Regions from separate parts of the Homo sapiens genome. Here region 2 is reported to be linked to region 1. The links are microRNA targets in miRTarBase. Many come from high-throughput screens and were not tested one by one. Region 1 holds a microRNA gene; the other region holds the end of a gene's coding sequence.
Evidence for each region. Region 1 holds the annotated microRNA hsa-miR-3120-5p (CCUGUCUGUGCCUGCUGUACA, at 3,213-3,233, shown strand). A microRNA usually pairs through its seed, bases 2 to 8, with sites in the 3' UTR of a target mRNA and lowers its output. Matches are read on the target gene's strand: a 7mer-m8 pairs with bases 2 to 8, a 7mer-A1 pairs with bases 2 to 7 and ends in A, and an 8mer does both.

Region 2: the mRNA of C6orf141 is a reported target of hsa-miR-3120-5p. The part of its 3' UTR that is shown has no 7-base or 8-base seed match.

The regions. Positions count from the first base shown.
Region 1 is chr1:172,135,608-172,142,729 of GRCh38, forward strand. It overlaps MIR3120 (microRNA 3120), which reads left to right and starts at 3,201; the gene lies at 3,201-3,281. All of the region lies in intron 14 of DNM3 (dynamin 3), which reads left to right. DNM3OS (DNM3 opposite strand/antisense RNA) reads right to left here. Exons shown (of 4, transcript NR_103486.1): 3 at 6,529-6,606; 4 at 1,272-4,989. It overlaps MIR214 (microRNA 214), which reads right to left and starts at 3,300; the gene lies at 3,191-3,300.
Region 2 is chr6:49,550,345-49,557,466 of GRCh38, reverse strand. It overlaps C6orf141 (chromosome 6 open reading frame 141), which reads right to left and starts at 6,799. Exons shown (of 1, transcript NM_001145652.2): 1 at 5,372-6,799. The coding sequence starts at 6,674. The coding sequence ends at 5,940. RefSeq lists enhancers at 5,479-5,998, 6,015-6,084 and a silencer at 6,755-6,814.

The DNA.
Region 1 (7,122 bases):
CATACATTGCCCATATATGTTGTACATTTTTGGAAAGGGATTTAGTAAAAAGCAAGATGTGAGAATAAAACAGAAACTGTCATTTCAAAAGTTTTTTGAAATGGATTTTTGATCTAGATAATTTTACATTAATACTTTAAAATCAGACTTGAAAAAAATGATGGCTTTTCTTTAACTTATGTCTAAAATGTGAATTTTAGGAGAATGGGAGACCCTGATTCAAGGAGAAAAGAGCCTTATTTTTCTTAAAACCAATGAGAAATTTGTTTTAAAAATACATAAATATGTAAATTTTAAGAGATAATTCAAATCTCTGAAGAAAGAGGACTGTTAATTTATGTATAATAAAAGCACTTAGTCAATATTTATTCTATTTCTATAGCCCAGTGTGTAAAGATTTAAATCATAATGAGCTACTCCTAGGCAAGCAGAATAATGCAACATAGGCGTTTCCAGTGGAAATCTGCTAACCTTATACTATTGAGGAAAACCCAACATCTGCATTGAAATAAGGACATTCTTTGGACTCTTAAGAAATTACAGGCCTCATTTTTGTGGGTTGAAGTGTTTGGATAACTTGATAAGGAGATTATATAATTCCCTTATAGGGATATTTACTTAGCATTGTTTTCATTTTGTAACAATAACAAATGACAAATGTAACTTCAGAAATAGGAAACAAAATGACAGTTATATCCCTGGATGATCAAAGTTGTGAGATCAAGAAGTTATAGAAATATTCAGCTCTCTTTCTAGTTTCACTTATACTTTTAAGATTGTGCATATTTCCTACCAGATCTGCACACTCCCTGTGGTGGAAAAGGTCAGCGTCGACCCTGTGAACACTGTTCACACTCCTTCGTTAAGTTATTTAGTTAGCCAAAACTTAGATATTTTCACAAAAGTCCCAGTAAATATTGAACTCTAATCCACTTATATTACTTAAAATTCTGCATGATCACAGTTGTATATTTTTTTACATACATAAACTATCTGATGTTATTCTTTTTTAATATAGGATTATTCATACAAATATTTCCATGTTCTGGTATTATCTAAAGATTTATAATTTTGAAAAAAAGAGTATTATTCAATAAACCATAATGGCCAATCCTATTCCAAATTTATTAAAAATGAGTTTAGATTCAAACCCACTCCCCTATATGCATTATTTGTCCCACTCAAAAGTTTATCCTGGAAGAGCAATATTATCCTTTATATTACCCTTTCCCAGAAGAGAAAAATTTTTAAATGTGCCTCATTTAATGACTTTAAAATACATACAAAACATTCTTTCAAGCATTTTTTTTGAAAATTGAGTAAAAAATGTTTAACAAAAAAGGTGTTAACTTTATGTTTTAAGGAAAAATATTGAAAATGTTATCCTGGAGTGCCTCACCTTAGGATGACTCTGCTGCCGTCCTAGCTTTCCCTTTGGAGTCTGAAGGACGGGTGTAGTCTCCTTAATGTTCTGGCTAGGTCATTGTCTCATTCTGGGAGCTGTCAAGCACTCTCCTGAGCCTTGCAGGGTCCAGTAGAATAATTCCATACGTGAACTCTCATAGGCAGCATTTGCAACAGGTGGTACAAGGCATTTAAGATTGGGTAGAACGATGTCGATATTCTGTGAGTAATTTTTATATTGTCTTCCTGTTTATATTCTACATTTTGTAAGTATTGTTTAGGACTTTATTTGCTAGTAATGGGACTTTTATTTAAGGCAAAAATCTGCATCGTGCAATGTATCTTGCAGAAGCAGAGATGAATTTTAGCAGATGACATATTGCCATAAGACAAGATTGTTTAAATGAGAGAAATTTAACTTTAATCATATTTGTGCTTTGTAGTTTTGCCCCATCATTCAGTTTTTTAATTAAAGAAACTATAATGTCAGGTTTGGTTAAAATATCATTGTCAGAAAATTTGAAACTCACTGGGATCTTAGCTTTAAGACTGAGACTTTCATTTTAAAAATAAAATAGCTGAATGAAAAATAGTTTGCTTTAGTTAAGAATACATACATAAAGTGTTTAATTGTTAAATGTGAAAAAAGTTTTGAGTAGCCTTGTGTTACATTTTTTAAGCTTGACCAGAATCTAAGAAAGATGAAAATTAATTTCAAATACTGAAGCTAAAACATGTTAATGAACTAAATAAAAGTTGACACATTTCTAATTTTATCCATCTTCCCACCTTTTACCCTTAAGTATTTAAAGTATTCATAGACAAAAGCCATCCCTTATCATTTCACTCCAGTTAACAGTGCATAAACTGAAGTTTGGATATTTTCTCAAAAGATGTGTCAAAATATACATTTCAAGTGCATTAACCACTTTCCTTATGCTTCTGAAGATAAATGAATTGCCTGAACATCTCAAGATCTTGAAAGTTTATAGTGATGGAAGCATAGGTTGCAAGTGAATGTGTTGGCCTTGTAAATTCTACTCCTAGAACTGTAGCATAAGCACCTTCTTAATTAAAGAATGACGCAGTCATAAATTTATGTATACCATGACGCGTGGAAGTATCAAAAATTTCAACTTTCCATATGTCAAAAGAGGAGAAACTATTATTTTAATATAGTTGAACACTAGTTGGAAATAGTAGTCTTTTCACTGTGTTTTGCCCAGACCCAGACTGGCAGAGTTAACCCAGACTGGCAGAGTTAACTCAAAGCACTTGATCCTTTGGAATACTCTTTTTCTCCCTTTTCTTTTCTCTGTCTTTCCACCCTATCCCCTTCCAAAAAAAAAAAAAAAAAAAAAAAATCATGACATAGAAAACCATACTTAGTTTATGGACAAGAATTCTTAGAATAATTTATTCTTTGTTAAGCATCAGACTGAAGTTATATTGTTTTGTTATATTGAGTTTTTATATCAATATAGGGTGCTGCAAAGCTGTGTACAATAAAGGTCAAGGGTAGTGATTTGCTGACAACAATTAGGAAAAGAGAACTATAGAATGCACAGGAACATTTTCAGAAATGGGTTTTATTATATTTCATAGGCACCACTCACTTTACTTTTGGTGGGTTTTAATACTTGAATCAAAATAAAATAATACATGAGTTAAGTATTAAACCAACAGATTAAAACCCCAGGCCCCCGAGCCCCTCATTTTGGTTGTAGCTCTTGGTGTAGATGCTATGGTGTGAGGGCTGCTTTCTTTCAATGGCTGGTTGTCATTCAGGCTGGGTTGTCATGTGACTGCCTGTCTGTGCCTGCTGTACAGGTGAGCGGATGTTCTGCACAGCAAGTGTAGACAGGCAGACACATGACAACTCTGTCCAGCCAGGCCCTTGGTTCCTTCAGGTTTCCTTTGCTCATAGACAGATACAATCAGCCTGTTTTCCAGATTTGGTGATTTTGGAGAGTAAGGGGAAAGGGAGAAAAATACACAATATAATTAAACATTAAAACATTATGGAACTAAAAACAAGTTAGACTTTTGACTTTATTCAGAAAGTACATTTATACATTTGTTCCAAATGTGCTAACATGGATAATTTGCGTAACAGAAAACTCACATTAAAATTTTAAGGAAAAAAAGAGATTAAACACAAGGTTTATTCTTAAGTCCAATTCATATTATTACTGGCCCACATGTAGTCAGAGTTCAGCGTAATTGAACCAGATGTTTTTCCTCTTTGCAAAAAACTGCATATTTTAATACTGAAGTTAAAGATAAAAACTATGTTTATGCATGTTTCTTTTAGTAGATAAGTACCATAACCTTGTCCATGAAAAAGAAAATTATCATTTACATGGAAACAGCAGCCCTTTTCAAAATAATTAATGAGCCTAATTTATTTGGCAACCCAAGTTGCTGACTTTGGTATTTGATGCTCTGATAATAGGATCCTACAAGGGAATATGTTTTTACCAATTATATGTGAAACAACAGGAACCTATTTAAATGTCTCATTTTCCTTTTAAATGCAAAGTTTATAACTGTGGATGTGAAATCAAATTAAAGGCAGTTGTGAGCTTAAGTTATCCACCTCTTAATTAACTATAGGGCCATGCTGTGAATCAAAAGGGTACAAACTGGAAGGCTGTTACTCACAGTGATGCTCAGAATGTGTTTTGGATATAGTTAGTGCAATATAGTTACAAAATAGTACTTAAGAAAAGGCAGAAAAGGCAAATTCATTTCATATCCAAAAAATTAAAACCAGATCCTTTGAAAATTTTTCTTATAATTTATATGAGCTAATAGTGTTAAATATGCAGATATAAAATTTAATTCTGGTGAGTTGAGAGTAATTCTATTTTAATATCAATTATCAATTCACATCTTTAGAAGTATTAAGCAAATTCCCCTCCCCTTTTAAAAACAAAAATATCCAAATAGTCAAAATTCCAGTAAGTAGGACTTCTTAAAAAACACAGCACCAAAAAAACACAGTATTGTCCAAGGATTGTATAATTAGACATTTTCTCAAAGAACTTTAAGAAAAACAAACAGTTTGTGATTTATCTTTAATTGTAAAATTCTGAGAAAATAGCAAATAGAAACTTAATGGAAAGCAAAATAGTTTTAGATACTGAGAAAATTACAATTTTCTACAAATCTGGACTTTTATGCAGTGATTAGGTAAGGTAATGTTTTAACAAAAGCTAATAAGTGCCATTTTCTGTGTATTTATGTAATTTCAAGAAAACAAATTTCCGATTCTGTTTCGGCCATCACTTTCGAGTAAAGGAACTTTTTTTTTTTCTTGACAGAATCAAAAACATGAGTAAACTTGGCTGTTATTTAAATAATTACAAGGTTAGAGTATGCCAAAAACCAGTGCCTTAAAATACTATTGTGTTATTGTTGCTGCATTCAGTGCAACAGAAAGTAATTATAGAGTGATTCACTTACAAAGAGTATATTGGTGGAAATTAAAAATTACTATAATTCTTTATAACTTTTCCTCTCTCTCCCATAAATAATTTGATCCAGTTAACTCTGCTCAATTAAAGGAATGATGCATGCAACCTGAAAAAATAAAAAGAAATATTTGTGAGTTTGTATGTTATGCTTTAATATAAAACAGTTTTATTAAGGCAAGATATAAAAATTTTTTGAGCCAGAAAAACCACAACAGTTTTTCAGGGGAAAAAAAAAATCTTGCTGAAAACAATTGTTCTATTCATAAGGCTTTTGGACAATTTATGTTTCTGATAGATTTTTAAAACACACTTACAGTAACTATGTGACATATGCACACTTCATTGTTATGTTGAACCTGCCCCTAAACTTGTTAAAAAGATGAAAGACTGAAAACCATATTGACCTTTTTTTAATCTCCCAAATTATAGGTTGAATATTAGTTTATTATTACTTAAAATACTAGCTAAAACATAAAAGAGCTATTTGTATTATTATCATACCATGTAATTTTTAGTGTGGTTATTACACCTTGTTTTCTTTTTGTCTTTTATTTCTTAAGGAAAAAAATGTAAGAAAAGAATTGTCTTCTAAGTCTTCTGTAGTGAAATTAAACCAAAGCAACTCCAGGAAACTGGCTGTCACGCTAAGTCAAAAAATTCAAAATGAAGATTTAATTATTTTTCCTAATTTACTTCGTTATCTCTAACTATTAAAACTGATAAAAATTATTTGTAAGAGACCTTTGAAAATGAGTAAATATTTATTTCTACTTAATTTACAGAACATGAAAGTAAGAAGGGATTTGAAGTAAGAAAGTTTCTATCTTAACTCAGGAATTTCCTGTCTCAGGTTAAAGCCTGACCTTCTAGTTATTTTAAGCCAGGATTTCTGAGTGATGGTCTCTTAGTTATTATTTTGACGTTATTGTGATGGGTGGGCTATTCTCCTTAGAGCAGAGTAAAGTGCATTGTTTATAAAGAGCAGATCCCTTACAGAGTAAGTGAAAGCTTTGGCGTCTCTTTACCGAGCATGGATGCTTGTGGATGAGTGAATTTTTTCACATTACCAAGTTGTACTTTTTATATCTTATAACAGCTTAAGACTTCAACCAAAAAAGTGGGGAGAATTCTTTCGTTAGGATTTTTATGCCTAAACTGTTTCCCACAGAGTGAAATACATGGGTGGTCTGTAGGCGAGAGGTGGGGGTAGATAGTATATTTTGGTCTTTTACAAACATAAACATATTATCTGGGCCGAAAGCCCGAATGCCAAGCAGGAAGGATATTAAGCCTATTGACTAACTACAGGAAAGTGATCAGTGTGAAACTTTGTCCTATAGTAAACAGTCTTTCTTTGATTTTGAGATCTGTGGCCTAAAAGAAAAATGAGTTTGAAAATTTAAGTCCACCGTTTTAGATTGATCCTTTTCCAGTTAAGAAATTGTGGTGTTGAAGCTAAGGCTCTGAACTTCCTTTCTCTTAGATGGTGGAAAAGTCCTTTTAACCCAGTACCTAGTCCAATTTATCAATCATTCACATGCTAAAATGAAAAATAATTATGAAATTTCTATGAAGTGTAGTTTGGACAGACCCTGAAACAATTTTCTCTTCATGACCACATATAATGTTTAATTTTAATACTTACACTTATTACATCCAGGGGTAGTTTTAGTTGAAGATGCTCACTGTTGGTTAGTTTCCTCTGGAATAGATTCCATGATCCCTAAAATATTTGTATATCTCCTTATAAAGTAATATGAAAATAAAATTAAACATTTTTCTAATTTACCTGGATATAGATATGGCTATAATGTATATAAATGTGGGCGTGTGTACCAGCGCATAAACTACAATCCTGCCTTCATTCAGCAGAGCTTTATAAAATGAGCTTTTACCTTTGATCTTTAATTTAGCCCATATAATTGAAAAATAAGTACTATTCGTTTTCATTTGTTAAAACTTTGCCTCGAAAATAAGTCGCTAGAGCCACATCAAGCATGTGCAGGAACTCCTTGGTTATCCTTTTACAAAGTAATTCTTATATTTCTACTCCTGTACTTATGCCAGAGGCACCCTTATGTCCCTTCTATCTCCAGACTAAAAGTCATCCTGAGGGAGAAAATAGGTGAGGGACCCATAGGGATTCATTTCTTTGAAACAAAAAGACCGTTTAACATGAAGAAAGAAATTGAAATTAAATATACATTAAATGAAAGCAAATTTTGAAATGTAATCATTT
Region 2 (7,122 bases), not on the chromosome of region 1:
AGCTGAGGAATGGGTAAGATCATCTTGGCCACTACAAAGCTTTCCTATTGCCCTACCTGCCTTCGCTTTCCTGCCAAGCACAAATGATGTTGGCTGACTCTCTTATTATAGCAAGCTCTGCAAACACAGCCTCTGTTTGTTCTATTTTGGGGAGGGCTGCAGTCTCCTCAAAATACTCTTGTTCTGTTTATTTATTAATTATTATTATTATTTTGAGATGGAGTTTTGCTCTTGTTGCCCAGGCTGGAGTGCAATGGCGCGATCTCAGCTCACTGCAACCTCCTCCTCCTGGGTTCAAGTGATTCTCCTGCCTCAGCCTCCTGAGTAGCTGGGATTATGGGCATGCACCATCACCTCGGCTAATTCTGTATTTTTAATAGAGATGGGGTTTCTCCATGTTGGTCAGGCTAGTCTTGAACTCCTGACCTCAGGTGATCCACCTGCTTTGGCCTCCCAAAGTGCTGGGATTACAGGCGTGAGCCACCGTGCTTGGCCTCTTGTTCTGTTTTAAGGTTAGAAATGTAAGTTTGAATTTGGTTAGTTCCTTGCTTTGAAGATAACCAAGTCTTAATGTTTTGTTTGTGACTATTGGCTGCATAATGCCTGAAAACCAATCATAACTCCTTACTCTCTCCAAAGTAATCTGGACTTTATCTTCATCTAGAGAAGTAAATTCACAGATTTGCCCTCCCTAATTACAGAGCAAAGTACTGACTGCAGTTATAGAGATGTCATGGTGTTCAAGAGTCACAGCCCTTTGTTTACTTATCTGAATCAGTTGATTCAAATTCTGGCTCCACCTTTTCCCCACCCCTCTCAATTCATCACAAGTGGCTGACAAGTTCTGACTCAGCCTGCAGAGTTGCAATTGTGCAATGTGTTAATGACTTCCTGCTTTTTCACCTTTACAGGAGTTTTTTATAATGTATTATTTCATATTCCTAGACAACAAAATAGCCATATTTCTGAAATAGTTTGAAATTCAATGATGAGTCAATGGTTCATTAGGACAAACTTTCAAATAATAAGGCTCTTTAAAAAAGACACTATAAAGCTTCATAGAGATCTCTTCGCCAATTTACCCATTCATATCCTCTATCTTTCACCTTCCTGTAATCTTTAACTGTGTTCAAAACTCTATGAATTATTATCTTCATGGCATTGTTAACAATTAATTGGGAATACAGAATAAAAAAACTTTTCAGTTTTGGTAAGTGACAAAATAGGATACAGAACTAAATATATGAGAATATGTCAGTGTTTCTCAAACTTTAATGTGAATCATCCAATGATCTTGACAAAATGCGAATTCTGATTCAACAGATCTGGAATGGGGCCTGAGATTCTACTTTTCTAAAAACCTTCTTGGAGATGCCCACGCTGCCGTTTCACAGAACGCCCATCTTGAGTAGCATCAGTATATGTTTGTTTATATACAGATCATATTCAGAAAATATACAGAGGTTACATTAATACTACTTTATATAGTTTATGCTTAGAAAGATGTATGTATATATGTAGGTATATTCACATGAAAATACAATAAAATAAAACCACACTTGGCCAGGCATGGTGGCTGATGCCTATAAGCCCAGCATGTTGGGAGGCCAAGGCAGGAGGATTGCTTGAGTCCAGGATTTTAATACTAGCCTGGGCACGCCAGGTGCGCGGTGGCTCACGCCTGTAATCACAGCACTTTGGGAGGCTGAGGTGGACAGATCACGAGATCAGGAGATCGAGACCATCCTGGCTAACATGGTGAAACCCCATTTCTCCTAAAAATACAAAAAATTAGCCGGGCGTGATGGCGAGCGCCTGTAGTCCCGGCTGCTCGGGAGGCTGAGGCAGGAGAATGGCATGAACCCGGGAGGCAGAGCTTGCAGTGAGCGAAGATTGCGCCACTGCACTCCAGCCTGGGCAACAGAGCGAGGCTCCGTCTCAAAAAAAAAAAAAGACTAGCCTGGGCAACATAGCAAGGTGCTGTCTCTATAAAACAAAAACAAAACAAAACAAAAAATTCATGCTTGAAACTTGCCAAATATTAAAAGAGATTTGGGGTCATCTGTAAATTTTTGTTTCCTTTATTATATCTTCTTTTTCTTCATAATATTTTCCCAATTTTTATGCAGTGTATACAACTGTTTCTTTTAATAAAAAGTTTTTTTCTTTTTCAAAGCAAAGAGCCACATCAAGTTTTATCACCAAGCACTGGTAACATCCAACAAAAATAAGCAGTAAGTCAAATGTAATGATTCCCAAAAGGAGATCATGGTTGTAAACAAAGAGTTTTAAGAGAGGATAACACTTGCCTGATCCTGGGGGTTATGCGATTCTGACATTTATCTTATGGTCACTGGAGTGGCTTCTGGAAGTCTTTGATGCGGTTCATCCACCTAACACAATTTTAGATAATCATGTTTTTCAGAGGAGTAGAGGTAAGATCAAAGAGCCAAGATCCAGTCATTCTCAGAGATTTCTTAGTATTGAGGATGCCCAAGTTTCACTTTGGATGCACTCCCAGGACATTTGTAAACGGGATAAGATTTCTCAGGCTCTTCAAATAACAGGGTTCTGCTTGGATCAGGAACACCTGTGAAGCAAATTCAACAGTATTTGGACTTACTACTTTTTGTTTCCAATGAAAAGGAACTCTATATTAAATGAAATCTATAAACATGTTCTAGGCAGTTAATAGGGAAGTTGAGTAAGCACTTTAAAAATAAATTTTCATTGCTTGAAACAGTGAGAAAAGGAAAAAAAAAATCACTTAAAATTAACTCAAACAGGCCGGGCATGGTGGCTCAGGCCTGTAATCCCACCACTTTGGGAGGCCGAGGCGGGCGCATCACAAGGTCAAGGAGATCGAGATCATCCTGGCTAACACGGTGAAACCCCGTCTCTACTAAAAATACAAAAAAACTAGCCAGGCATGGTGGCGGGCGCATGTAGTCCCAGCTACTCAGGAGGCTGAGGCAGGAGAATGGTGTGAACATGGGAGGCGGAGCTTGGAGTGAGCAGAGATCGTGCCACTGCACTCCAGCCTGGGCGACAGAGCAAGACTCTGTCTCAAAAACAAAACAAAATTAACTCAAACATATTTGGTTTAAAGGAGTTAAGCTAACTTGACTAAATACGTTTTTGGCTGAAAGACAAAATGAAAACAAATTGTGTCTATTCTGCTTTTCTAGACAACAGGGCATCAGATTTAAAATCCCAGAGGGAAAACAAACTAACCTGACAGGTCAAAGAAAGTATTCAAAGCTCCCATCTGCCCAGAACTAGGAGGTATGTAAACTCTTTTCAGTGACTGTTAAGGATAGTGTACCTTAGTCCTTTGAGCTTTACCATGAGTCCCTACAGAAGATGTGAAGGTCATTTCTAAAGAATTTAAGAAATATACTTACTGATCCATTAAAGGTTAGGAAAAGCTAGAAATAAGTCCTTTCTTTCAGGAGTAGAGAAGAGTCTTATTAAAAACCACCGGCTTGACTTTCATTAGCTTTCTTGTGTTATACAATTTCTGCTTTTTGTTACTAAACAAAAGACTAAAGCCTAGTTAGGATGAAAAGTGAACTAAACAATAACCGTGCTAATAATAAAAAATGTAACTAACTTTGAGGATTTATTGTATGACAGGCAGGGTTCTAAGTATTTTCATTTAACTTAACCCTAAAAAAAAAAAACCCTCTATGAAGTTGATACTATTTATTGTCCCCACTTAACAAATCAGGATACAGAGGCACACAGAGATAAGGCAACTTGCCCAAGGACACAAGTTAATAAAGAGGTAGAGCCAGTTTTGAACCCAAGCAGCTGAACGCCAGAAATTGCCTCCAGAGAAGGCAGCTGAGTGATGCTACTTACCATTTTTGGTTATTGTGAAAGAGACTTTTTTTGTTCTCTATATTCAATGATTAGTCACCTGGGACATGTGATGATTCAACCAAATTAATAAGCTCAGGTCTGAAACTTACATGCCAAGTAAGTTAATCTCCCACTGGAGTCAGGGAGGGTTGTTAAGGAAAAGAGATTCATTTTAAGGGATGAATCTTTTCTACCTGTCAAGCAATTTTGAACACAGATGAGCTCAGATGCTGAATTCCTCTCCCAAGTGAGGGTCTCACAGGCCTAAGAACTGCTAGTGATGATTCTCCAGCCAAGAGGCCTTGCAGAATTCAGGAACATTAAGGTGATTCTAGTACTTCTCATAAACATGAGTTAGAAAACCTAAGATATTGGCCAGGCATGGTGGCTCATACCTGTAATCCCAGCACTTTGGGAGGCGGAGGCAGGAGGATCACCTGAGGTTGGGAGTTCAAGACCAGCCTGGCCAACATGGAGAAACCCCATCTCTACTAAAAATACAGAATTAGCCGGGGTGATGGCACATGCCTGTAATCCCAGCTACTGAGGAGGCTGAGGTAGGAGCATCGCTTGAACCCTGGAGGTAGAGGTTGTGGTGAGCCAAGATCGTGCCGTTGCACTGCAGTCTGGGCAACAAGAGAGAAACTCTGTCTCAAAAAAAAGAAAAAAATAGAAAAAGAAAGAAAACCTAGGATATCCTCAGGCATCTTTTGACCCCTAAGTAAGGGTCAAATAAATCCTCTAAAGGCTGCCCCAAACCTTTAGGAGGGAGATTATCACATTCTTCATCCACTTAGTAAGCATATGCAATTACTAGCTGTGTGACTTAGACATGCTACAAGACCTCTAGGCCTAGGTTGGCTCATGAGTAAAACAGGGGCATCTTATCTATCTGGCCTGCCAGGAGGCAAGAGGTAGATCAGATGATCTTTTGAGAACACTTCAAGCTCTAAACTAAAAATGAAGGCAAAAGGGAAGACTGGGGAAGGAGGCACTTTTCAACTATTTGCTCATCAAAAGCCAGAGTCCTACCTGCTTTGTTAATTCTTGCAGTAAATACTCCTTCAGGTGGTAAAGTCAAGCAGTTCACCTGGAGAGGGCTGCTTTGCTCCTCACAGAGCTTCAACCAGGCCAACTACTAAAGAGTTAATTCACATAGTATTTAATAATAAAGAGGAACAAACAAAATAAGAAAAATTAGTTGTTTCAGTATTACCAGAGGAGATTTTTTTGAACTACACAAGGAGAATGGTATCTTCAATCTATTCTTGACTACAAGTCTCATTAATGAAGAACTATGGAAAAGAATAAGACATGCATTCATTTTATGGCAAACTACATATTGCTATCTACCTTTAGTTCAGAACATTTACATGCAGTATTTTTAATATTAAAATTAAAATGTATGATAAATGCATGTTTACAGGACTAAATTAGCTATTGTTTGCAGTAAAGCCTTTGTAAATGGAATTTCACGTTGAAATCTTAGTCTTCTGTCCCCAACTCCTTCTTTCCCTAGCTCCTCTCGTTTTCTTTCTAACACTGAAATGTGGGGGAGAAAAATGAAAAGTGCACATCAGAAGAGAGTCACTTGCTGCTTTGGTTTTACTTTCCCATTTCTTTTTACTTTCTGTTTTTGGCTTTTAAAACAAGCCTCTTCTCCACCCACTCCCACCCTCTTTGCAGAGAGCAGACTTCAAACTTCACTTCTGTTTCTAGGTCCTAAAGAGAAACAAGAGGGGGGCGGGGAACAGAAAAGAGATCAATTGAGAGTTATTCCAAAATGCAAATTAACAACAGGTTTTCTCATTTCAAAACTCCCACATTCTGCCAATCTGAAAATATCTTTTCTCCACCTCTTCTGAATGACTTAGGTCCCCAGACAGCGAAGGAATTCAAGCCACAAAGGAGGTATTATGCTGCTTACAGTTCTTAATCTGCCTCCCCGAAGCGCTGCACCAGCCTCTCAAAAGGTTCCTTCTGTAGGTTAATTGCAGGTTGGAGCTCCCAGAATAGCATTTTCTTTTAAGGATGATCGCTCATCCACCATCCCGGAACATTTCTCGAGCTACTCATTAGAGTTTAATTTCCTCGAGCCAAGTCCCTGGAGACGGTGAAACCCTCCTCCCCGCGGCGTGGACGCGGGATGCCCCTGTTCGTGCCTGGAGAGCCCGGGATTCAGCAGGGCCCCAGCGTTCCCCAGGCTGTCCCTCTCTACTGCTGCGAAAAGTGAGCGCGGTCACGAAGTGCTCCTCAGTCCTCGTGGTCATGCGACCCTTGGCCCAGGAGGTCTGCAACACTTCTTGTGTTACCTGATAATCCTCCACCCGCACAAGCACGTATTTGGGTGGGTCTGCTGCGTCCCGCGGCGGGGCTACACGCCTGCCAGAAATTCGCTTTTGTCGTTGAAAGACAGAAGGGTAGTTGGGCTCCTCGCCGTGGTCCTCTCCACCCGCATGAGGAAGGTCCTCTGCACCGGCCACCTCTTCCCGTGCAGGGTCCCCTCGAGTCCCTAACCACCTCTCTGGGTGCAGGAGAAAGAGCACTTTCTCTCTGACCCAGGACTCACGGTCCAATTCCTCCCCGGCCCGAGGTCCGAGGGCCCGATCTGCCGTTCTGTCCTCGTGGCCGCCGCCCTGGCTTCGGCTCGCCCCTGCCGTCGCGGGATTCCGGGCGCCCGGAGCTAGCGGAGCCCCGCGCCCTACCTCCCGCGGAAAAGGCCCGAGGTCCCCCAGGCTGCGGGAGGAGTCCATGGGATTCGCAGCTCCCTGAGGCCCCCGGGTCTCCATCCTGGCAAAAGGGTCATTCATTCGTTCCTTCTTTGACCGGTTCAAGCAGCAAGCGCCTGCTGAGCTCCGGAAAGCGCGGGACCACCAAGCCCTGGGTGTGGCCTCTGCTGCAGCTCCGGACTCCCAGCCGGTGAAAGCTGAAGACTAGATCAGCCCCAGGCTAACCGCGTGCGGAACCCGCCTCTTCACCCTCCGCCTCTCCCACCTGGCGGCTGTCTAGCCATTCAGAAGAAGCTTGACACAAGCCCCAGTCACTCCTCTTCTTCCTCCTACCCCTGTCCGGAGCCCTGCTCCCTTTGTCATTCGCTGATTCAGTCCCCTCTTACTTTTCACCTCTATCCTAGTTTCCCACCCACCTTTCGTTTTTCTCCGGAGCTGAGGCGCAAAGGACACCCTCGCACTGCGCCCCCACTGAAATGCCCCGAAGTATGTTTGCTTTCCAAGGACGCTCCTTGAGGTGAAGGAACAA